Homo sapiens: one gene and its partners. The protein of the gene in region 4 interacts with the protein of the main gene of each other region in a pairwise test. Each region holds a gene or a part of one and is shown on either strand. Other genes may lie near its edges. The genes, in order: PIM1, CAPRIN1, LASP1 and FXR2.

The links.
Region 1: the proteins of FXR2 (region 4) and PIM1 interact in binary tests that used the Homo sapiens proteins (3 or more experiments, as listed by UniProt).
Region 2: the proteins of FXR2 (region 4) and CAPRIN1 interact in binary tests that used the Homo sapiens proteins (3 or more experiments, as listed by UniProt).
Region 3: the proteins of FXR2 (region 4) and LASP1 interact in binary tests that used the Homo sapiens proteins (3 or more experiments, as listed by UniProt).

Annotation. Positions count from the first base shown.
Region 1 is NC_000006.12:37,173,152-37,175,965, reverse strand, and holds the end of PIM1 (serine/threonine-protein kinase pim-1), read right to left. Parts: coding exon 2,794-2,814; intron 2,033-2,793; coding exon 1,875-2,032; 3' UTR 538-1,874; downstream 1-537. UniProt on the Homo sapiens protein: Proto-oncogene with serine/threonine kinase activity involved in cell survival and cell proliferation and thus providing a selective advantage in tumorigenesis.
Region 2 is NC_000011.10:34,047,699-34,054,737, forward strand, and holds the start of CAPRIN1 (caprin-1), read left to right. Parts: upstream 1-4,032; 5' UTR 4,033-4,173; intron 4,174-4,334; exon of another isoform or gene 4,335-4,426; intron 4,427-4,601; exon of another isoform or gene 4,602-4,722; coding exon 4,723-4,938; exon of another isoform or gene 4,939-5,629; intron 5,630-7,039. UniProt on the Homo sapiens protein: mRNA-binding protein that acts as a regulator of mRNAs transport, translation and/or stability, and which is involved in neurogenesis, synaptic plasticity in neurons and cell proliferation and migration in multiple cell types.
Region 3 is NC_000017.11:38,873,028-38,880,064, reverse strand, and holds part of LASP1 (LIM and SH3 domain protein 1), read right to left. Parts: intron 6,186-7,037; exon of another isoform or gene 5,952-6,185; intron 1,980-5,951; coding exon 1,885-1,979; intron 1-1,884. UniProt on the Homo sapiens protein: Plays an important role in the regulation of dynamic actin-based, cytoskeletal activities.
Region 4 is NC_000017.11:7,604,883-7,611,919, forward strand, and holds part of FXR2 (RNA-binding protein FXR2), read right to left. Parts: intron 6,392-7,037; exon of another isoform or gene 6,299-6,391; intron 1,268-6,298; coding exon 1,215-1,267; intron 857-1,214; coding exon 763-856; intron 1-762. UniProt on the Homo sapiens protein: mRNA-binding protein that acts as a regulator of mRNAs translation and/or stability, and which is required for adult hippocampal neurogenesis. Specifically binds to AU-rich elements (AREs) in the 3'-UTR of target mRNAs.

The DNA of each region.
Region 1 (2,814 bases), on a different chromosome or scaffold from region 4:
TAAAGGTGAAGGAAACTTGAATCAGGAACCGAGAGTAATAGAGGCAATAGTTTTTCAATAAACTTCACGTGTACCAAGGGGACATGCTCAAAATGTTTTACTATCAGTGGCAGACAACTGATAAAAGCTTCAAGGGTTAGTTTGGTAATAGGTATGTATTTGTTATCTCTAGATCAGCCCCATCCAATAGAACTTTCTGCAATGATGTTTTATATGAGGTGGCCACTAGCCATAAATGGCTATTGAACACTTGAAAATTGTCACATCTATCCTATTTGCATAGCTTTAAAATTGTAATCTGGAAAAGGTTATTTTATTAGGCCTCCCATGCCAGATATTGCCCAAATTTTGACAATACTGGTCCTACCCCTTGACCATACATTCGTTTCAGGAAGATGACTATCCTAGAAATCCCAATGTTGAAGGAAGCCAGATTTAGGCTGAGAATTCCTTTCTCCTACAATTCTTTGGCACTTACCAAATGCTCAATAAATGCAGGTTAGCAATGCCTCCGCACAGACGATTAGAAGCCACGAGTTAAGACAAAAGGTTTTTATTCAAAAAACGCCAAGTATAAAAAAAAAAATAAGATCTCTTTTATTCCCCTGTACAGTATTTCACTCAGATAAAACCAGCAGGCTACCTGCTGCTCAAAACACAGCCCCAGAGAGGATCTGGAAGGCACACCATCCAGAACTGCTTTTCATAATTATCCTATATACACAGTCAGCAATGCCCCTCCCCATCACCCACAGAGCCGGGACCCACCTGGGTAAGTAGGTGAGGGGCCCCACAGAAGCCAGGGAGCTGCAGCACTGTCCCGCCTGAGTCCCGTCACCCCACAAACAGAGCAAGCGTCGCAGCCCTCCCCCAAAAGGTCCCCAAGTCAGAGGAGGAAAGGAGGAAAGAAAACTAGGGCAGCAGCTATGGAAGCTTGGAATAGGAAGGGAACCAAATAAATAAATAAATAAATACATAACATTGACCTCCAGGTTAGAATGCGCATCTTTCAAAACAAGAAACAAAAACAGGTAAAATAACTTAAAGGCAAAATTTCTTAAAAATTAGATCCACTACAATCTTTTTGTATACTACCATGCCAACTGTACACACATTTACAGCTTTTCTGTTGATTGCATTGTTTGTGCATTTTTTGTGTGTGTGAGGTCTTGGCTTTGAAACAGTTAAGTAAAAACCAAAAAGGAAGACCAGTTCACTCGGAGTTTTACTAAAGGAGGCAGAAAAAAGGGCAGGTGGCTCAGCGTTTGGCCCTGTAGCCTCTTCCATGGCACCTTTCATATGAAGGAGGGGGTGAGGGAGGACAGGAGAGAAAAATAGGGAACAAAACCCAGGCAGATTTTTGGAGAAGCAGCAGGTAAAAGAGGCAAGTTCAAGTATTTCTCCCAGCACAGCCGGAGTCCCCACAGAAGGCACTCAGAAAGAGTCGGAAGAGGTGACAGGGACTTAAAATGGTGCTAGTCCTATCCCATCCCAACCTGTTTCCCCCCTACCTGACCCATCGCGGCATTCAGCAGAACTCATGATGAAGGAAACAGTTCCATGGCAGGGTTCTGACCCACCCCCACCCCCCACCCCCGGGATATTTCAGAGTCCAGCAATGCTGGACACCTATGAGAAGAAGAGAGTATCTATGGGAGGAGTTGAGGCCTAGGACCCCTGGAGAGTCACTCTTCCCCACTGTTGGGAGGCAGCCTCCAGGGGCCTGGGATCTGGAATGAGTTGTAAATGTTGTTCCTGTATCAAGCACTGTCCTGCTTGGCGAGACGTGTCACTGGTACTCGGGAAGCTGGAGACAGAAGCTTCCCCTCCCTCGGGCATCTGACAAGAGAGGGGAGGACCTGCCAGAAAGGCTGCTATTTGCTGGGCCCCGGCGACAGGCTGTGGAGGTGGATCTCAGCAGTTTCCTGGGGCAGGAGAACATCTTGCATCCATGGATGGTTCTGGATTTCTTCGAAGGTTGGCCTATCTGATGGTCTCAGGGCCAAGCACCATCTAATGAGATGCTGACATTCTGCAGAAAGGAGGATAGACGAGGTTATGAATGACTCAACTTGTTTTTACACTGCAAAGGTCTTCCCCATTTGCTTCTCAGAGGCCCACAAGTCTGGGGTCCCAGGGAGGCCAAGCATTTTCTAGAACACTGTGCTGGGTACCCTTCAATAGGAAGGTATTGACTAATATCTGGGTCCTCCAGTCTGCTTTCAGCTAAAAACTGACTCCCCTCTTAAACCTGTGGTTTTCAAACTTCAATAGTGGGGGCCTTTCCCACAACACCCACTCACCAGAAATAGGAAGGATGATGACAAGAGATTTTGATGAGACACCACTGAGCATGATGAAATGATTCAATTCACCTACCAACTTACAAACACGAACACCACCCACAGTGAGGTCACTGGTACCAAAATATTTGGAGCTGCTGCCTTAAAGAAGATGCTAAAAGAGCTTTTAACTTTTTACTCCCTGGCAAAACAGCCAGGAATTATCAGGTTTCTGTTGGTACCTTTAAAAAAGTTTTTGGAGAAGCCAGATTGTCTTTTCTTCTTAATATGCTCACACATGCCTTCCTCTGACCTCCCAAGGAAAGCTCAAGTGCAAACCATGTGATTTATGAGGCCAGCTCAAGTGTAAATCACTCACCTACAATTCTAAGCCAAGGGTGACAGAATCTACTGGAGAGTGAAGCTCTCCAGAATTTCAAAGACTGTCCCATGAAGACTAATAGCCCCATTAAGACCAATAACCCCATGGCCAGGGGTTTCCATCAGTTACCTGAAGAGACCCTCTGCCTGA
Region 2 (7,039 bases), on a different chromosome or scaffold from region 4:
GAGATCTTGCCACTGCACTCCAGCCTGGGCGACAGAATGATACTCCATCTCAAAAAAATAAATAAATAAAATAAAATAAAAATAAAATTTTTATTTTTTAGATGCTGGGTTTTACTCTGTTGTCCACGCTGGAGTGTAGTGACATGATATTGCATCCTCGAACTACTGGGCTCAACTAATGCTCTCATTTCAGCCTCCCGAGTAGCTGGGATTTCAAGCACATACCACTGTGTTTACTTTTACATTGAGTAAAGTGTGTAGCTTCTAAGAGTGTTCAATAACAAACAACAGTATTTCGTGAAATCTGAAATAACTATTCTGAACATATTGTACCTCTACAAAACATGAAGTCCTGTTTCTAAGCATAATATTACACGCAAGAAAAGGTGGACATAGGAAAATATAAGCGGAAAAGGATGTTATCTCAGCTGATGACCAAAATGTAAGAATTCAGAGACAGTATGGACCAATAGTAATAATAATATTAAAACCGTACTGATATGTTAATACAGTAGGCAATACTTAGTGACAAAATAGTTGTGCCAGGCATGCTATTGCTTATGAGGATCCAGAGATGGAAAAACAAAACGACTGCTCTTTTTCTTTGAAAAGCTTAGAGTTTAGTGGTGGTTCATGGACACATAGACAATCATTGATTGAATTACAATAAAAAAGACTGTACTGGAAAAATTATGATAGAAATGTCTACTCCTGACTTGTAGTAAAATGATGGAAAAACAAATTTAAGAAACTTTAAGAGCCTTAGCTATGTGAACAGTGTAGTTCACACTTTGGTCAGGTTTCTGTCAACCTGAAACAAAGAGGCAGTTCATATAATTCAGATGAAGATTCCTCTCTTTTGCTACAAATAAGCATTAGCTTATTGGGTGACTCAAGTTCAAGCAGTTGAATTATTTTGCTAAAATGATCAGGATAAATAGTTTAATTATTCACTTTGTGGAAACTTCAAAGTGCTGTGGTCTAATGAATTGAACAAGCAAATGTCAGCTTGAAAGATTTGTTATTGAAATATATTATTTTGCATATTGTTGTATTTGCTTTATGTTAATATATTTAATATTGGCATATATTAAAGTATACCAAGGTTTTTAAATTTATAAACCATTTATAAACATATTCTGCTCCTCCAGTGTGTTTTCTGGGAACCCTTTATTTCTTCAATGATGCAATGACTGCAAGTTACTGCATAGCTCTGTACTAGAAAAAAGGGTTTAAAAAATGAGTATTTAAAATTCACATAAACATAGCTTCAGTCAAGTAGGAAATACACAAATTTGAATGACTGAGACCTTGGCATTGATCTGGGCAGGAAGTGAGCTTTAGGACACAGCTTTGCCTTAAATTTATTGGTCTTTCTGGACTTGCTGACCTGAACAGACAAACGCAGAATGTCAGAACACCAATGAAATGGGATTGGGATGATATAGGAAGTGAAAGCGTGACAGCTTCATATATTCACCAAATATTTCTGGCTCATCTGCTTCCTACCCGGCATCTGATAGAATACCATCTCTTGACTCCCTTATAGTTGGATAGGGTCATGTGACTCTTTTTGGCCAATGAATTTAAGCAGATGTGATGCATATCTACTTGTCTAAAGCATTTAATTGACTGAGATATTCCTGAGTTCTCTTGTGGTACAGTGATCAGCAACACTTGAGATATGGCATCAGCATGAATCTACTGAGTGACTACTACGAACAGGGCCCTCTGTTGAACTGTGATGGATGTGTACCATTTGCAGTTGTTTTTTGTTTTTTGAGACAGTCTCACTCTGTTGCTTAGGCTGGAATGCAGTGGCACAATCTTGGCTCACTGCAGCCTCTGCCTCCCGGGTTCTCGTGCCTCAACCTCCTGAGCAGCTGTAATTACAGGCATGCGCCACCACACCCAGCAAATTTTTTTGTATTTTTAGTAGAGACAGGATTTGCCATATTGGCCAGGCTGGTCTCGAACTCCTGACCTCAAGTGATCTGCCAGCCTTGGCTTCCCAAAGTGTTGGAATTACAGGCATGAGCCCCTTCACCTGGCCCCTTTGTAGTTTTAAACCAGGGATTGGCAAACACTTTTTTTGTAAAAGAAGAGATAGTATTCTAGGTTTTGCACACCCTACTGTCTGTTGCACACCCAAGTACTCAACTCTGCTGTGCTATGGCAGAGAGGCAGTCATAGAATGGATGTGCATAGATGGATTGGATGTCTCCCAATAAAACTTTAGACATTGGTCAATTCCGAGGAACAAAACAGTGATTTCTGAAACTTTAATGTACACACAAATCTCCTGAAGATCTTGTTAAAATGTAGATTCAGTTAAGTCTGCTATGCAGTCCAAGATAGTAGTGATAGTGGTAGTGAGAGAGGTTGGGCTGAATAAACTTTGAGTTGCAAGGAGCTAAAGGATTATCATCTCCGTTTCTAGCCTCTAGGCCTGGCATAATTGCTCAGCGTAGTGCTAAGGATGGTTTAGGTGACTAAATTTTGAAACTATGACTCCCCATCTAATGCAGCAAAAGCCAAAGTCCTTACCGTGGTCTTTCAGGCCCTACAAGACCAGCCCCCTTTAATATGTTTGACCTCATCTCCTACTCTCTGCTCTTGCCACTATGGTTTCCGTGCTGTTCCTTGAACCCAAAAAGCACACTCCGTCTCAGATCTTAGTACTTGGTGTTTCCTCTACCTGGAAAATTCCTCCTCCAAGGTAGCTGCTTAGCCTTCTTCCTCACTTCCTTCAGTACTAGCTCAAATGTCAGTAAGGCTTTCCCTGACCACCGTTTTTTCTTTTCTCTACCATTTCACTATCTGACATGTATTTACTTGTCTTCCCCTTACTTAGATTGTAAGCTCCATGTAAATATGTTTTGTTCATAATCCCTAGCACTTAAGAGTTCCCAGCACACAGTAAGGTGCTTAATAAATATTTGAATGAATATATAACAGACTTTGCAGCTAACCAGGATATCTTGAGGTCGGAGGCTGCTGTTGTTTCTCCAGGCTCCCTCAGGATGCACTGTTGCCAGTCAGCGTTACTCATTTTATTCCCTAGGGAACAGTGGGTTTGGTAGAACTCTCTTCTAAATCTCTTTTTCATAGAATTTAAATTATAAATTGGTCATTTACTGTTGTCACACAATATTGCGTTGCTGAATTTTCCACTGATTATATTCATTTTATTTCCTCCCAGAACTTGGTTTCTTGTTTTTCTGCTCACTGTCCACACCCACTCCACCCCAAGGCTGGAATAATTCTCTTGGAGCAAAAAAATCATCTTTTTCTTTGTATTTCATTGAACGTTCTCTTTACAGTGTTAGGTAAACCTAAAAAAAAAGGAAACAAAAGTCTAATAATTCGTAATACTCAGGCCTACTGGATGTATAACATCATAGGGTAGCTGAAGACTCTTTGTGAGGCCAGAGCTTTAGGATTTAAAAAGCCACCAACCATGACCGTGTCCGACACGTTCTACAGAGAACTCCTAGGTTACTGGGTGATTGTTTGGTGGGGAAGCGGCGAGTTGTCTTTTTTTCAAAAGACGTTTTGGGGTATGGAGTTTGCTCGCTCTGCATACAGAAGGAATTCTAGAAGCTGGGATCGCACCACCCACCCCACGCACCCCTTACTTGCAGAAACCTTTGCCCCCCAACCCCCACCCCCACCCCAAATAAGGGCTCTTCAAGGGGCAGTTGCCAGCTCCAGAGCCAGCTGCTTGACACCTATTGTCCCCGTTTGGGCGTCAAACGATTTCGCCTGAAGGACCCTAGCGTCGATTGCTCTCAAAACTCAAGGGGCCTTTCCTTCGGCCTTGCCGGGGCCATCCCCACCTGCGTCCAGGAGGCGCCCCACAGCGCCGGGGCCGGGGGACGGCGGAGAAGCTAGCGGGCGGCCTCTTCCGGGCAGGCGTTCGCGCCGGGCAGCCCGAGCGGCCGCGAAGGCCCCCGCTCTCCGCTTCTCCCGCCCCTCGCGACCCAGAGGGCTGCTGGCTGGCTAAGTCCCTCCCGCTCCCGGCTCTCGCCTCACTAGGAGCGGCTCTCGGTGCAGCGGGACAGGGCGAAGCGGCCTGCGCCCACGGAGCGCGCGACACTGCCCGGAAGGGACCACCACCCTTGCCCCCTCAGCTGCCCACTCGTGATTTCCAGCGGCCTCCGCGCGCGCACGGTGAGCGCCACCCGGGACCGAGCCGCTGCAGGGGAAGAGGGCCGCTGCGCCCGGGTGTCCTTTATCTCCGGACCCGCTGGAGCTTCCGAGGGGCTTGCCCCCAAGTCCCCCCACCCCACCCCGGTCATTTCCCATGCCCTTCTCTGCCCCCAAGCCCCGACCTCTCTCTTTCCTCCCTTCTCCGGAAGCCGGCAAAAGCCGGCCCTCCCCGGTAGGGACCGTTGCAGTGGCCGTTGGCGGCCGGCGCGGCGATGCCCCGCCTCCGGCGCGAGCCTCGGAGCCCCCGGGCTGGTAGGCCGAGCCGGCGGCTCCGCGGGGGAGGGGCGGGTCGGGGGGCGGTGCGAGGCCCAGCCGGGCGCCCCGCTGGCGGGTCGCGCGCGCGCCCGCGCACTCTTCCTGCCCTCGAGGCGCGCCGCGCCCCCTCCCCCACCCGCTCGCGTAGGCTACCGCTCGCTGCGCGTTTTGTCCCGCGTCTCGCCCCGTCCGTCTCCTGACTGGCCGCTCTTGTCCTTCCTCCCGCTTTTTCTTCTCTCTCCTTGCGGTCTGAAGATGCCCTCGGCCACCAGCCACAGCGGGAGCGGCAGCAAGTCGTCCGGACCGCCACCGCCGTCGGGTTCCTCCGGGAGTGAGGCGGCCGCGGGAGCCGGGGCCGCCGCGCCGGCTTCTCAGCACCCCGCAACCGGCACCGGCGCTGTCCAGACCGAGGCCATGAAGCAGATTCTCGGGGTGATCGACAAGAAACTTCGGAACCTGGAGAAGAAAAAGGTGCCAGGAGTTGGCGGGGAAGGGAGGGGTGGCTGCGGCCGGGCTCTGCGGCCCCTCCGACCCTGGTCGCTGGAGCCTTCGCTTCTTTTCGTCTCGGGAGCGTTACTAGGTCCCCTCCTCCCACCCCCTGGCCCACACGCCCCGTCTCCACGTTCAGCGGGAGCTTCGTGCCCAGAAAACGGGCTCTTGGAAGAGGCACTTGTCACCTGACTCGGACGCGGCACTGTACCCCAGGCCTCTTTATTACTCTTCCGCTGTGGGTCCGGCTTTTTGGCCTTTAGGAGTGGGACATGTGAGGGTGGGGGCCTGTCGTCAGGACTTCACTGTATGGTGCCCTTCTTTCCGTCTCTGAGGCCCGATTTCTCTGACGAGGGCCCAAAATGAAGAGGTCCCTGCGCGGGGGGCTCCGGGTTCAACCGACCGCCTCGTGGAGTTGGGGCGGCCTGCGTCCTGCAGCCTTGGGGTCTGTCCGCTCGGTTACCATGCACTCGAGACCTGTCGAGCGTCCCCTCTTCTTCCGTAGGAGAGAAGTGTGTTTAGAATCTTAAGGTAGAACTGCCTTTCCGGCAGGCCCATTTTGAATGGGTCTTCGATTTGCTACCCCCGCGCCCATGCGATGGGCTCCCCTGCGTTTCCCTCTTTGTTTCAATTGTTTAGGTGTCCCCCCGAGCCTCAGGCTCAGCTCAATCGCGAGATGATTTTCTGCAGCGACTTTTTGTTCCTAGGGGACTGTGAAGGGGCGGGGGACTGCCACGATTTAGATTCGTTGGGGGCTGGGTCCTGGGGAGACTGGAGAGGATGGCTGGGACTCGGGGCACATGGAGAGAGCGTCTAACATGGCGGCGGCTGCGGGGAGAGGGAAGCGCTTTACTGGAGCTGCATTGTGAGCACAAAGCGAAAGCAGAGGGGGAGGGCAGAGACCAGGCAGCCGCCCCGACTGGCCTCCTTAGGCCCCCCTCTAAAAAAAAAAAAAATCGAGCCACACCCACGATTTTTTGGATTCAATATTTAGTCCTTGTAGATCAAACTACTGAGGTATATCTTCATCTGCAAGTCAGCCTTTTGTTTTATGCTTTCATCGCAGGACAGTGTAAACTCTTGTTTAGAGGGGCGTGTGTATGTATGTAGAGAAAAGGTCTGGGCAGAGTGAATAATTAAAATGAGTAAGATCAGAGGTGGAAGGGGAGAAACAAATTAGTCGTTTGTAAAAACGAGGTAATTACGTCTGTGACTATCATGTTAACTTGAATTTTACCTTATAAAGTAAAATGAAGCCTTGATAACTTCTACTTGTCTGCCTCTAGGAAAACATATTTATAACATCTTGAATTTCCAGGAAATCATTTTGCAGTGTTTATGTGGCCAGACACCTAATAGTGTTACTTGAGGTGCTGATATAGTAACTGGCTAAAACTTGGGCTGTGGGAAATAAGTTGAAGAAAACTGGTGATGTTTAGGTCTTATTAATTTTACTTATATATTTTACATTTTGGGAGAGTTTTAAAACATTTAGATTTGATACTTCCCTGTTTCATCTTCGGTATTGAAGGTTGGAAGTTTTACTTGAATTTCATGGACTTGGGATTTCTTTTTTTTCCCAATCCTTTATTTTGATAAATGTATGTTTTATTATAGGTAATTGGAATAGTAAATGTAGTTACATCAAGAAAGTAACAAAAGTATTTTAAGTGTAAGGTAGCTACATTCAAATGTTGAATGGAATAAGCATGCCCAAGGCCAGTATCTTCTGAGTCTGACACATGATTTAGTTTACCCTGTTGGGTATCTTCTTAAATTTTTTTTTTTTTGAGACGGAGTTTCGATCTTTTTGCCCAGGCTGGAGTACAATGGCGCGATCTCAGCTCACTGCAACCTCCACCTCCCGGGTTCAAGCGATTCTCCTCCCTCAGCCTCCCAAGTAGCTGGGAGTACAGGTGCCTGCCACCACGCCCAGCTAATTTTTTGTATTTTTAGTAGAGACAGGGTTTCACCCTGTTGGCCAGGATTGTCTCGATCTCTTGACCTCCTGATCCGCCCGCCTTGGTCTTCCAAAGTGCTGTTACAGGAGTGAGCCCCTGTGCCCGGCCTCTTTTTAAAATTT
Region 3 (7,037 bases), about 31 Mb from region 4:
AGCCCTTAAGAATTCGAAGAATGTCCCATTTCCCTTGTGGGGGTGGGAGGGGTTGGTAGGGGGAAGAGGAACAGTAGAAATTAATAGAAGAGAAGGGGCAGCTGAAGGAGGGGCCAGGACAGAGCTGCAACCCTTCCTTTACCCAGATAACCTGCCCAGTGCCCTCCTTCTTCCAGAAGGGACAACTTCATGTTGCTTCTTGGGCTTGAGATTTTTATCAGGAATCTGTTTTCCCAGCACCTGGTGCAGGTTAGTATGTATTATAGCAGCAGGCAGGCAATAAATGTCTGCTGAATGAGCGAGCCCCTAAAAAGATGAAAGAGTGGTCTTAGCCAGGGAACGGGAGGGGGTAAGGAAGCAAGGAAGGTTTGGGGTAAGGTTAGGGGTAAGGCTGGAGGTTTAAGCCCCCTTTTTAGACAAGTCCCAAATTTTTTTTTCCCTGGGTGAACTTCAGCTGCAAAGAGCCTCCTGACTGAGAATTAAGAGAAAAAAAAAAAAAACTGGACTCAAGTCAGATCCTAAATTCATGTGAACACTGAAATTACCATTACTTGAGTTGGTTGAAGTTAAAAAAAAAAAAGTTAAAATTAAAAAAAAAATCGAATTAAGGCTGGGCGAGGTGGCTTATACCTGTAATCCCAGCACTTTGGGAGGCTGAGGCGGTGCATCACTTGAGGTCAGGAGTTCGAGACCAGCCTGGCCAACACGGTGAAACCCCGGTCTCTACTAAAAAATACAAAAATTAGCTGGGCATGGTAGCATGCATCTGTAATCCCAGCTACTCAGGAGGCTTAGGTACAAGAATCGCTTGAATCCAAGAGGCGGAGGTTGCAGTGAGCCAAGATCGCGCCACTGCACTCCAACCTGGGTGATGAGTCCTCTGACTCAAAAAAAAAAAAAAAAGCAAATTAAAAGAAAAAGAAATTATCATTACATCATTACTTATAAGTGACTTGACCTTCCAAAGCCTCCACCTCGCAGGTGGAGGCGGCTGTGAGGCCCCAACACTGAGTTTGTACTTGCTACTCACAAGGTCAATTGGAAGATGGAAAATTGCTGTACTTTCTGGGATTGCATGGGATGGGATGGGATGGGATGGGAGGGGAGGTATTCCTCCAGGCTCTGGGATGGGGGACCCCACCTCTATACTCCCTCCCTACCGTCAGCTGCTGCAGGTCCCAGTGCAGAAGGAACAGAGCTGCACTATACTCAAGATGACTATACTCAAAAGAAACAGTCTCCACAGCCTCCCTCACCAGGCAGGGAAGAGATCTATCTGGCCCAGGCAACACCCTTTATGCACCCCTGCCCATTCTCAAAAAATGAACACCAAAAGGGCTGGCATGAGGCTTCCAGAGAGTTTTCTTGAAGGAACCACTGGAGGAAGGAGCCCCCAAAGCCTAGAAGTACCCAGGTGAGAGAAGGAAACTGTCGATTTTGAGGAGAGAAATAAGGGAAGGTAAACAGAACAAAGTCCTCAACCCCAAATACAACAGACACGTCACTCATTCTTGAAAGACCACGAGGAAAGCCCCCTCTTTTGTAGCAGGGGACAGTGGAAAGAAACGTGCTCGCCTTACTGCCCGAAATTGGGTTAGAGCCTGTCTTGCCCTAGCCATCCCACCTTGAGAGTCTCTTCCCTTCCCTAAGCCCCAGTTTCCTCATCTGTACTTTAAATGCACTTTAAATGGGGGATAAAAGCACTTTAAATGGGGATAAAAAGTGCTTGCTTCATTCAGCTGTTGTGAGGACAAACTGTGATGTTCAAGTAGGGGATGGAAGTGTTCGCCAATGTCACCTTGCGGTTATTGGAAGGAAAGGAAGAACTCACTCGGGGAGGGAGCCAAGGTGCCCACCCAGCCCCCTGCCCAGAACAGGACTCACGCGTTGCAGTAGGGCTTCTTCTCGTAGCCCTTGTAGTTCTTCATGTTCAGTGTCATCTTGCAGGTCTCGCAATGGAAGCATGCTTTATGCCAGAACTGGGGATGGAGACAGGAGGACATACATCAGATACCAGGACTTCTGAAAAAGGGGCTCAGGCCCTAGGAAGGGGCACTCAGGAGCTGCTGGGACTGTCCTAGGCCCATGGCTGTGGGGAGAACATGGAATCATCCCAGGTGAGCTGGGGGCATTTCAGGTCACAGGCTTTGGCACTCCCCTCCCCTCTCTCCTTCCTCATCCTCCACCAATGGGCCATTTGAACCCAGGAGGAAGAGACAGGCAGGCATGAAGGACAGGGGGGAAGAGCCCAGTTATAGCAGTGGCAGCAGCCCCCAAGTCAGCTCCACCCTCCCCAGGGAACCCCTCCTGCCCAGAGCTGGCGAGGCCTCATTGCTTATGCAAAGCTGCGCTGGGTTGCTAGGGAGCAGCCGCTGAACATGAAGGAGCAGCTCCTCTGGTGGCACCAAGGCCTCAGAAGAGGAAGGCCCAGCCCCCACACACCCAGGCCCAGAACCCAGGTGCTCCTAGCTCCTGTACCAGGGCCCAGCACACCCACCAGCCCCACATGAGCCCCAGGTGGTGCTACAGCTCCGATACCTCCCACTTCCTGTGGGATGCCTGGCCAGAGGAGTGGGCTGGGTGTCCCAGGCTCTGTCAACACAACACATCCTTTCTACCCTTCCCTCATCCTCTCCCACCCCAGGAGGAGGGCAGGAGAGCACCCGGCAGCGGGTCTCCCACTGAGGCACTGAAGGGCTCTACTTCAAAGCCTTGAAGGTGGACACCCCTATAGTGGACATCAAAGCTCTACCCCACTAACTGTATGGCCTTGGGCGGGGCCCTGCACCTCAGAGGAGCCCACTTCCTGGTGTGTACAATGGATGTAATAACACCTGGCCCTCCTGGGATTGTCCAGGACTGAGGAGAAATCACCTTCAAAGCCCTCAGCACAGCACTTGGCACCTCTGAGCACTCAGATGTCAGGTGCTGGGCACAGCAGGTGTGAACCTTAGCCGAGGGGGTCAGGGCTCACACTGGAGATTGTGTGTGTTGGGGTGCAGAGGGGCTTCACTGTGCCAACCACAGCTCCAATCCATTCATGCGTGTGAGAATGTGGGACACGGCCGGGCACGGTGGCTCACGCCTGTAATCCCGCACTTTGGGAGGCCGAGGCGGGCGGATCATGAGGTCAAGAGATCGAGACCATCCTGGCTAACATGGTGAAACCCCATCTCTACTAAAAAGACAAAAAAATTAGCCAGGCGTGGTGGCGGGTGCCTGTAGTCCCAGCTACTTGGGAGGCTGAGGCAGGAGAATGGCGTGAACCCAGGCCACTGCACTCCAGTCTGGGTGACAGAGCAAGACTCCGTCTCAAAAAAAAAAAAGAGAATGTGGGACACAGGGCCCATCCAGGGTGGCCGACGGAGGGAAGAGAGTGATGACAGAAAGAGAACAGATCTAGCCGGGAGCGGTGGCTCACGCCTATAATCCGAGCACTTCGGGAGGCTGTGGCAGGCGGATTACTGGAGGTTGGGAGTTCAAGACCAGCCTGGCCAACATGGTGAAACCCCGTATCTACTAAAAATACAAAAAAATTAGCCGGGTGCAGTGACGGCGTGCCTGTAATCCCAGCTACTCGGGAGGCTGAGGCAGGAGAATCGCTTGAACCCAGGAGGCAGAGATTGCGGTGAGCTGAGATCATGCCACTGCACTCCAGCCTGGGGTATAGAGCGAGACTTAATCTCAAAAATAAATAAATAAATAAATAAATAAATAAATAGGCCGGGTATGGTGGCGCATGCCTGTAATTCCAGCTACTTGGGAGGCTGAGGCAAAAGAATCACTTAAACCCAGGAGGTGGAGGTTGCAGTGAGCCAAGATTGTGCCACTGCACTCCAGCCTGGGTGACAGAGCAAGACTCTGTCTCAAAAAAAAAAAAAAAAAAAAGAGAAACGATCTAACAGGCTCCACGTGGCAGCCTGGAGGGGTCTTTGTGGAACCCCTGAGAAGTATTGATGCTTAGGCAAACCCATGACAACAGGATCTAAATTCACCCCCAGAAGCCCAGGATGATGTGCTGGATCACCACCAAACAGGGGTCCACTGCCAGGACCCCAGAATAATCCAGGCCACCTGAGTGACCTGGCTGGCCTGTCCCTGCCCCATTTCCCAGTAGTCAAGGGAGACATTCCCCATTCCAAAAGAAGGAGGCCAGGAGGCAGGCCCAGGGGGACTTTTGAAGGAGCCCAGCCACAGAGCTGGTTCTTGGCCATTTGTCAAGGAATTCCCCCAAGGCGATGCTTTTCAAAATGTTGTCTCCAAACCCCCGGAGGGAGAGGTGCTTCTGAGACACTGGGAGGAGGGGATAGCAGAAAGAAGGCTGAGAATCTGGGATTCAACCTCCCTACCATGGCCCACTTCAACCAGAGACCCCCAGGGTAATTTCAGGGGGAAATCACCTTCTAATAGGGTACTGGTTCCCTATCAAGAAGACCCAAAGGAAAAACCTAATGGTGGAATATTAAACAGAATGCTAGGAGAACCACTCTTGGGGAGGACGGCCAGCCGGAAGTCTGGAAGCAAAGAAGTGGCGGGTCTAAGCTTGGCCCCCTCCCCAACCTGGGCCTATCCCAGTGACCCAGGGCCCCCAAACTCCTATGAGGCAACTTAAAGACTCCTTCTGGTGCATAACCCAATAGACAGAACCCACCGGGACACTAAGACAGACTGGTCCCTGCCCCCACAGGCCCCTGAAGTGGTGCATACCCCAACACACAGAACCCACCAGGGACACTAAGACAGGCTGGTCCCTGCCCCCACAGGCCCCTGAAGTGACAGCCCCACTCCCTCCCCGAGTAACTGGGAGGCATTGGCAGGGTGCCCCAGCCTGGTCACCACCCAGTCTGCTGGCCTCTGCCTACTTAGCTGCACAGGCCCCTGCCTAGGCCCCTGCCTGGGCCCCTGCCTCCCCCTACCCCCACAGGGGCCTGCCAGGAAAAACATTCTCCAGAATCCAGACCATGACCCACTTTCTCACACACACACACACACACACACACACACACACGAAGGGCTACACACTGTCCTAGGACCACGGACCTCCAAGGCTGCCTCCTGATTGACGTTGGGGAGACAAAGGGAGAGAGACCCCTACTCCAGATGGCCAGGCCTGCACCCGGAGCCAAGCCCCTTGGAGAAGGAGGGTGGGGTGTACTGAGCAGGCAGGGGGCACAGGGCCAACACTGGACCCAGTGGTTCCAAAGACCCCTCCAGGCTGCCACGCGGAGGAAGCAGAGCCCCTCTTCTAGGGGATGGCACCTATTTCTATCAGTAGCTCCTTCCCACCTCCCTCACAGGCCCCACACTCTCATCCAGACACCCAAGGGTGGGGCAGAGGAGGGTGGTCGCCTGTCCCCCTGCAGGGGGCTCTGAGCAGAAACATGGAAACCAGTTACTATGAAGCACAAGTGTCAAGTGGAGCTGCAGCCACTGTCTCCCAGAGTGCTGGAAGGTCAGGAGAGGAGGCCGTTCCACCCCTAATGCTTGGCACCTCCAGCAGCTTCAGGCGACTCCCCTACCCTCTCTGGAGGAAGGCCCCAAGGTTCAAGAAAACCCACCAGCTCCTTCCACTGTGTCCTTTTTGGGGTAGGAAAATTGTGGGGAGGGGAGGCAGAAAATGGCCAGTCCCTCCACAACCGCTGTGAGCCAAGCCTGGACCCTAAGATGAAAGAACTCCTGCCTTGTCTCAATGGGGTCTGGGGAAGGACACTGTCAGGGAAATATGTCCAGAGGACCCCACAGTGACCCCGTCTGCCTCTGCCCTGCCCCATGGGCTCTGTCCCAGAGCAAGAGCCCCCCTCTTTTAAAGGCCCCAGGCAAGATGATTTCAGCGAAGCATTCCTGGGCCTCAGGACTCAAGGAAACTGCACCTCGAGGCATGCACCTCTGCCCCTTCCTGCTGCCTGCAAAGTCCATGGCTTCCCTGTTCACAGAAACCAGACAGACCCTACCTCTGCTGCCTGTTAGAGGCCTCTCAGCCTGGATCCGAGGCTCCAAGGCAGGGTCATCTTGATCTTCCCTTGCCTACCTGCAACCCACTCTAAAGAAAGGTAAACAGGCTGGTAGGGGCAGAAGCCTGCAAGGATACCCCTCACTTGGGACAGCCTGTCCCTCTGTGGCTCTGGGTTGGGGGGGATGTGGCAAGCTTCGTGTCACTGTGCCTGCAGCCTGGCACCTTGGCCTCTGAACCCAGGCTACCTGGGGTGGCCATGACTCAGGGATGGATTATGAGACCATCTCTTCCCTTCCTGTTGCCCAGGGTTACAGTTTCTCCCTCCTGCAGAGGCAATGCCAGCCCCACCCTGGCCGGGGCACCAGCCTAGCTTGGTTGGCCACCTGACCCGCTGGCTTAAAGGCATAGATCTTTGCTGCACCTCCACAAATTCCGAGGAGGACAGGATTATTCCCAGTGGCCCCACGCCCCCATACAAGACCCCAGGCCCAGAGCATTCCTCCAGATAGGGTCAGGAAGGGATGGGACCTACTTTTGGCACAAATGAGATGTAAATAAAATATAAATATGTATAAATAAAAGTACTTTCTGCAAACACACTGGCAGAAGAGCTGAGCAGAAAGAACTGTGGATGTGAATTTCAGCTCTAAGAGAGGGAGATGAGCCACATGGGCTACCTGAGCCTCCATTTATGGAGTGCATCGTTTACAAGAGCGAATACACCTACTTTGTGAGGCTGCTGTGAAGACTGAGCCCAGCATATCGTGATAACTAGTAGCTATTATGAAGGGATGGTCACAAGATGATGGTGGGGTACTCTAAGCTTCAGCTAGCAAAACGGGGCACCACAGCTGTGAGGACTTCAACCCCCTCGAGTGGGGAGGGAGCGCTGAGACAAGCAGAGGCAGAGAGCCCACCCTAACAGGGGATTCCAGGGGAACTGGCAGCAGACCAATCCTCTACCTCCACCTGTTTTCAGAAACCTGGGGAAGCAAGCCAGGAAAGAGGGACGTGGCGAGGTTCTTGACAACACAGCTCCCTAGATACAAAGCAGGTGCACAAAGTAGGTGCTCAATAAATATTT
Region 4 (7,037 bases):
AGCTAATTTTTTGTATTTTTAGTAGAGATGGGGTTTCATCATGTTGGCCAGGCTGGTCTTGAACTCCTGACCTCAGGTGATCTGCCCCACTCGACCTCTCAAAGTGCTGGGATTTCAGGTGTGAGCCACTGCATCCAGCCTGGGATGTATCTTAAACCAAGGATACAAGAAACCAGAGGAAGGAACTAATTAAAATCAGAGGACGGCAGGGCATGGTGGCTCATGCCTGTAATCCCAGCACTTTGGGAAGCTGAGGCGGGTGGATCACCTGAAGTCAGAAATTCAAGACTAGCCTGGCCAACATGGTGAAACCATGTCTTTACAAAAATGCAAAAATTACCCGAGCATGATGGCAGGTGCTTGTAATCCCAGCTACTTGGGAGGCTGAGGTGGAAGAATTGCTTGAACCCAAGAGGCGGAGGTTGCAGTTAGCTGAGATCGCGCCACTGCACTCCAGCCTGGGCAACAGAGCAAGACTCCATCTCAAAACAACAACAACAACAACAACAAAAAAATCAGAGGGCACTGGATTTTAGATGTTGTTACCATAAATGGAAGGCAAATCGCCTGAAACTGGGGATGTTCCTGAGAGTTTGGCTGATCACAACAGTGATAAAAGGGGAACTGTTGCATTTTACATTTCCATAGGCTACATGGCTGGATATGGCTTAGTTGGGGAGGAAGGAACATGAACCAACCAGAGAAAAGCCTAGAATCCTGGGGAAAAGTGACATTTAGAAAGGTGTACTCCACAGCCCTTACCTCCACTTCATCCCCTTCTGTGATCTCCTTATTATAGTCAGCTGGAGGTGGTAGCCGGACATCCCCAAAAGGAATTTGTCTCTCACTCTGCCAGCTATAATAGAAACAATAATATGAAAAAGCTACTCTGACTGATATGGTTGCCCATTTCTTTACAAAAGGGTTATTGCCTCAGCTGGGCGAGTTCCACCTATCTGGATAATTAGAGGCTAAACCCCAGGCCCTGCTCCATAGTAGTGTCTTCCATCTCTTTCTAGACTCTAAATACTGGGTCAAATGCCCCCACCCTCACCAAATTCTCAGCCCTTTCCTCTCCTGGGATCCATATGAGTTCCCACCCAAACCCTCAGCTCTCCCAACCTATTACATGCCTCATAGGACTCAGCTGCCCCCTCTTCTCCACTCTCCTTCTAGGACCTAGTATGCTGGATTCTCTATTCCCAAGGTCTTACTTGTTTTCAAAGAAGATGGTGACAGAGTCTTCATGGACATCCTTCACAAAGCCCTAGAATGGATTTTAGAAAAAAGCAAAAAAAATAAAATGACCTTTTACTTCCACCTTAGCCATCAAGGGAATAAGACACCACAAAACCTTAAACTTGAGTTTTAGATAGGGACACAAGTGGTGTAATGAGACAGCCTGAAAGGCTGCACTGGGGAAAGAATATGGGCAGTCAAACAGAGAAAGGAAATGATATTGTCATGGAGAGGTGTATGTACCACCTGCATCAGAACAGCCTGGAAACCAATGATCTACTCAGGCTCCCACAGGGGCCTCCCTATCTGTCTGCCTCCTGTTGTGCTAAGCAGCCTGCCAGAGTTCAATTAAAATACCAACAACATTCAGCAAGGCTAAGAATATCCCATGAGACAGTGTGAGGCTGTCCTGGAACACCTAGAGGACATGAGGATCTGTCGAGAGAGAAGGGCCTACCTCCGCAATACAGCAAGAGATCTGAGCAGACTCGCTGCCCTGATGCATGGGTCCTAAGACAATAATCGGAACACTAGACAAGTTCAAAATTGTGATGAACACAATTTACAGAAGGAAAAATTAAGACTTAATTTAAAAACATCGGTTTTTTAATACTAGAATTGAATCTAGAATGACACTGATAATTTATAAAGGATAATAAAATTTATGGAAGACTCCAATCTTGATATTTTGACAAGAGCAAGAGGGATGACTGAACAGCTGATCCACCTCCTGTGGTCTGTGTCCTCACTAAGGAGGCCAAAGCCATGCATTCACCCCTATGCTCCCAATTTTTCTACCTTCTCCCTATTTTTCACATACAATTAGGGATTTCTAATTTTGAAAAAGGTCTAGCTTATGAATTTATTATTTTATCAACTGTGCTTTTGGTTTCATATCTAAGAAATCTTTGCCCAGGCCAGGCACAGTGGCTCACGCCTATAATCCCAGCACTTTGGGAGGACGAGGCAGGCAGATCACCTGAGGTCAGGAGTTCGAGACCAGCCTGCCAACATGGTGAAACCCCGTCTCTACTAAAAATACAAAAATTAGCCAGGTGTGGTGGTGCATGTCTGTAATCCCAGCTATTTGGGAGGCTGAGGAAAGAGAATCACTTGAACCTGAGAGTCAGAGGTTGCAGTGAGCCAAGATCATGCCATTGCACTCCAGCCTGGGCAACAAGAGCAAAACTCCATCTCAAAAAAAAAAAAAAGAAAAAGAAAAAGAAATCTTTGCCTAATCCAAGGCCACAAAGGTTTTCTCTTATGTCTTCTTCTTAAACTTTTAGTTTTTTGTTTTACATTTACATCTATAATCCTTTATTTTTAGACAGAGTCTCACTCTGTCACCCAGGCTGGAGTGTAATGGCGCAATCTTGGCCCACTGCAACCTCCACCCCCCGGGTTCAAGCAATTCTCCTGCCTCAGCCTCACGAGTAGCTGAGATTACAGGCAACCGCCACCACACCAGGCTAATTTTTTATATTTTTAGTAGAGACGGGGTTTCACCATCTTGGCCAGGTTGGTCTCGAACTCCTGACCTCAGGTGATCCATCTGCCTCAGCCTCCCAAAGCTGGAATTAAAGATGTGAGCCACTGTGCCCAGCCTATGATCCATTTTGAATTAAATTTTATATATAAGGTGAGGTATTGATCAATGTTTTTTAAATTTTTAAATTCTTATTTATTTTTTTGAGACAGAGTTTCGCTCTTGTTGCCCACGCTGGAGTGCAATGGTGCAACCTTGGCTCACCGCAACCTCCGCCTCCCAGGTTCAAGCAATTCTGCCTCAGCCTCCCAAGTAGCTGGGATTACAGGCATGGGCCACGACCCTGGCTAATTCTGTATTTTTAAGAGAGACAGGGTTTCTCCATGTTCGTCAGACTGGTCTCAAACTCCCGACCTCTGGTGATCCACCCGCCTCAGCCTCCCAAAGTGCTGGGATTACAGGTATGAACCATCGCACCAGGCCACTTTTTTTTATTTTTAATATATTTTTAAATTAAAATTTTTTTTTAATAGAGACAGGGTTTCGCTATGTTGCCCAGGCTGGTCTTGAACTCCTGGACTCAAGCAATGCACCCGCCTTAGCCTCCAAGAATGTTGGAATTACAGGTGTGACCACTGTGCCCAGCCCATTTTTTACCTAAAGATATCTTGTTCCAGCACTGTCTGTTGAAGACTATCCTTTCTGGCCAGGGGCGGTAGCACACGCCTGTAATCCCAACACTGGGAGGCCGAGGCTGGCAGATCAGCTGAGGCCATGAGTTCGAGACTAGTCTGGCCAATATGGCAAAATCCCATTGCTACTAAAAAAAAAAAAAAATAATAATAATAATAATATATAAATTAGCCAGGCGTGGTGGCACATGGCTGTAACCTCAGTTATTCAGGGTGGCTGAGGCATGAAAATCACTTGAAGCCAGGAGTTAGAGACTGCAGTCAGTCAAGATCATGCCATCGCACTGCAGCCTGGACAACAGGGCAAACTCTGCCTCAAAAAAAAAAAAAGAAGAAAAGAAGAAAAGAAAAGACAAGACTATCCTTTCTTAGCTGAATTGAACTGCCTTTTCATTTCTATCGAAAATCAGGAAGGGCAATTTAATGTATAATGACAGAAGATTGGTAGTTGATGGAGGACTTTTGGGAGTGACAGAAATGTTCATTCCTTTGATTGCAGTGATGGACTCAGTTACATACATGTCAAAACTTAACAAATGGCACACTTTAAATATGTCTACTTTGTTGTATGTCAATTTCAGCTCAATAAAGATGTTTTTTAAAAAAATTAGAGAGCCCATACAACACAGGGAAACCTCATCTCTGCAAAAAATTTATAAATTAGCAGGGTATGATGGCTTGTGCCTGTAGTCCCAGCTATTTAGGAGGCTAAGGTGGGAGGATCACTTGAGCCAGGGAGGTCGAGGCTGTGATGAGCTGTGATTGCACCACTGCACTCCATAGCTTGGGCAACACAGCAAGACCGTGACTCAAAAAACAAAATAAATAAACAAAAATAAAAGAATTAGAGGTTTCAAAAGGCTAATACACAAGAACTATTCATGAGCTTTGCTGCTAGGGACAAAGGCTAAGCTTAGGAGAGAAAACACCAAAAATGCCCTTGGCAAATGCACAGCTCCCACCTCATAGAACTAATCAATCACAAACACTTACCAGATTGCTATTTCCTTACGATGGGAAAATCTAAGCCTGCATTTCACTCTTCATACAAGCCACCTTTCTCGTCTTTAGGGATATGTCTTGCTATAGAGGCTGCAGTCAGTCAAGATCATTCTTGACTGAATGTTCTTTCTTAGAGCCTTACTACTGCCCAAGGCTTTAATTACTACTGGTACTTCCTGGCCTCTTTTTTACCCATGCTTTTTCTTTCTCTGACATTCTCTTCTCCAGAAATGTTTTTTCTACTCTTCATTCAGATTTTTTTCCTTTTTCAAAAAGAACCTGAGTTATGAGCATGTTCATTCAGGTTTAATGCCAACTCCTACTGTTCTCCATTCAAGTCTTCTGAGGCACTTTTACTTCTACTTGCCTGGGTCTCTCTTCCCTTTTGGGTTCTTCCCTTAGCTCCTGCTCAAGTGTCCTCCCCACTCCCACAACCACTAATATTTTATCCATTCCCTCTTCTTTTCCCTGTAATCCCAACACTTGGAGGCCGAGGTCGGTAGATCAGCTGAGGCCAGGAGTTCGAGACCAGTCTGGCCAATATGGCAAAACCCCATTGCTACTATATATATATGTATACATATACATATATATACACATACATATATATGTATATATACATGTATATGTATATATATACATGTATATGTATACATATATATACATGTATATGTATACATATATATATACATGTATATGTATACATATATATATACATGTATATGTATACATGTATGTATATATATACACACACACACACACACATATATATAAATTAGCCAGGCGTGGTGGCACATGGCTGTAACCTCAGCTATTCAGGGTGGCTGAGATATGAGAATCACTTGAAGCCAGGAGGCAGAGGCTGCAGGGTCGTCTGGATTTCTAGAATTATTCCAACCAGCCTCTTCCGCTGACTTTATCCAGTTCTTTACCCAAAATGTCTACTCCAAGCCTTAGAAGTAGTTTATCAAGGCAGGAGTTACACTGACAGAAAGAAGTGGAAAAGAGACAGAGATGAGAATCACTAATTTACTGCTTTTGTGGAGAGATTTCTACTCCTAGATATATTCAAATCGGCTATGCCTATGGTGTAATCCAATTCTCCTCCACCATGTTAGGCTTGGCCCCAGGGTGAGCAGCAATATTACCCTAGTTTTCCCAGCTACCATGACTTCCAAGGCAGAAATGCAAAGCTCAGAATGGAGTAATCTCTCACATTACTCAGCAGTTCAACCAAATCTCACTCAACCCTTATATTTCCAGGGTCTTTTTCCTTCAATTAGTCTCCAAAACTAGCTCTGTCCCCAACTTCATATTCCAATCCTGTCTCTGCTCCTAAATTCCACCCATTCATCCCATACTAGTTTTTTTCTCCAAGGGTATCTGTGGTGGAAGTGAGCCCCAAGTTCTGCTCAGTCTACGCTCATTGTGAAAATAAGCAGGTGAAGGCAAGAGCAGGTGGGTGGAATGTATTAGGGAGCCACCTAGATCCAGAGGATAACTTGATTCAGTGGCCATAGCATCACCTGGCTTTGGCTTCTGGAGCCTGGCACCAAGCCAGCAGAGGAAGAGAGAGCCCCAGGTTCCTAGGTACTTTGGTTTCCTCAAATTAGAAGATATAAAATTGGTCCCCACCTTCACCGTCTTCTAGTTCTAGACTCCCAAAGCAAAGGAGGGGGTTCTAGGAGAAGAGCAGGAACAGTCTGAGTAAAAACCAAGTACTGAAGCTGAGGATGCCATGTTGATTAAGAAAGGAATGGGGATTAGGATATCCAGATGAGGTTTGGAGTAGGAAGATTGCGCCCTGGACGGTGAATACTTCATTTGGGAGAGTACAACTTAAAGAATAAAATACATTAGGCCATTTTGTACGTCTTAAGCCATTTTGTACGTCTTAAGCATGATGACTGCGGTTTCAAGCTCACGGTGAGGTATGCCTCCCTCAACCCTTGTTACGGATGCCAGTCTGACATGAAAAAAAAAAGGACGGAAAAAAAGAGTAAATTCTGACAAACTTAATTTTCAGATAGCTACAAAATAACTTAGATCCCAGATCTAATATTTTATCCTTTAAGAAAACTGACGGGAGGGCGTGGTGGCTCACGCCTGTAATCCCAGCACCTTGGGAGGCCAAGGCGGGCGAATCTCTTGAAGTCAGGAGTCAGAAACCAGCCTGGCCAACATAGCGAAACCCCGTCTCTACTGAAAATACAAAAATTAGCCAGGCATGGTGTTGCACACCTGTAATCCCAGCTACTCGGGAGGCTGAGGCACAAGAATCACTTGAACCTGGGAGGCGGAGGCTGCAGTGAGACGACATCACGCCACTGTACTCCAGCCTGGATGACAGAGGGAGACCCTGTCTCAAATAAAAAAAAAAGGAAAAGAAAGAAAAGAAAACTGACAACAGGGCCCAATTCTGAGAGAGGAGAAAGGGACCTTCCCAAATGTACAATTCCAGAAGCAGTGTAAATACTCCCTGACCCATCCCAAGTTTGCTGAGTCATGAATATTAAATCAGCAGCAAGGTCAAAACGGATAAGTATCTGTAGGGTACTGAGAGTGGAAGATTAGCCTGAATTTAGGGATTTGTGGTTTTTAACTCAGGAACAGGGCAG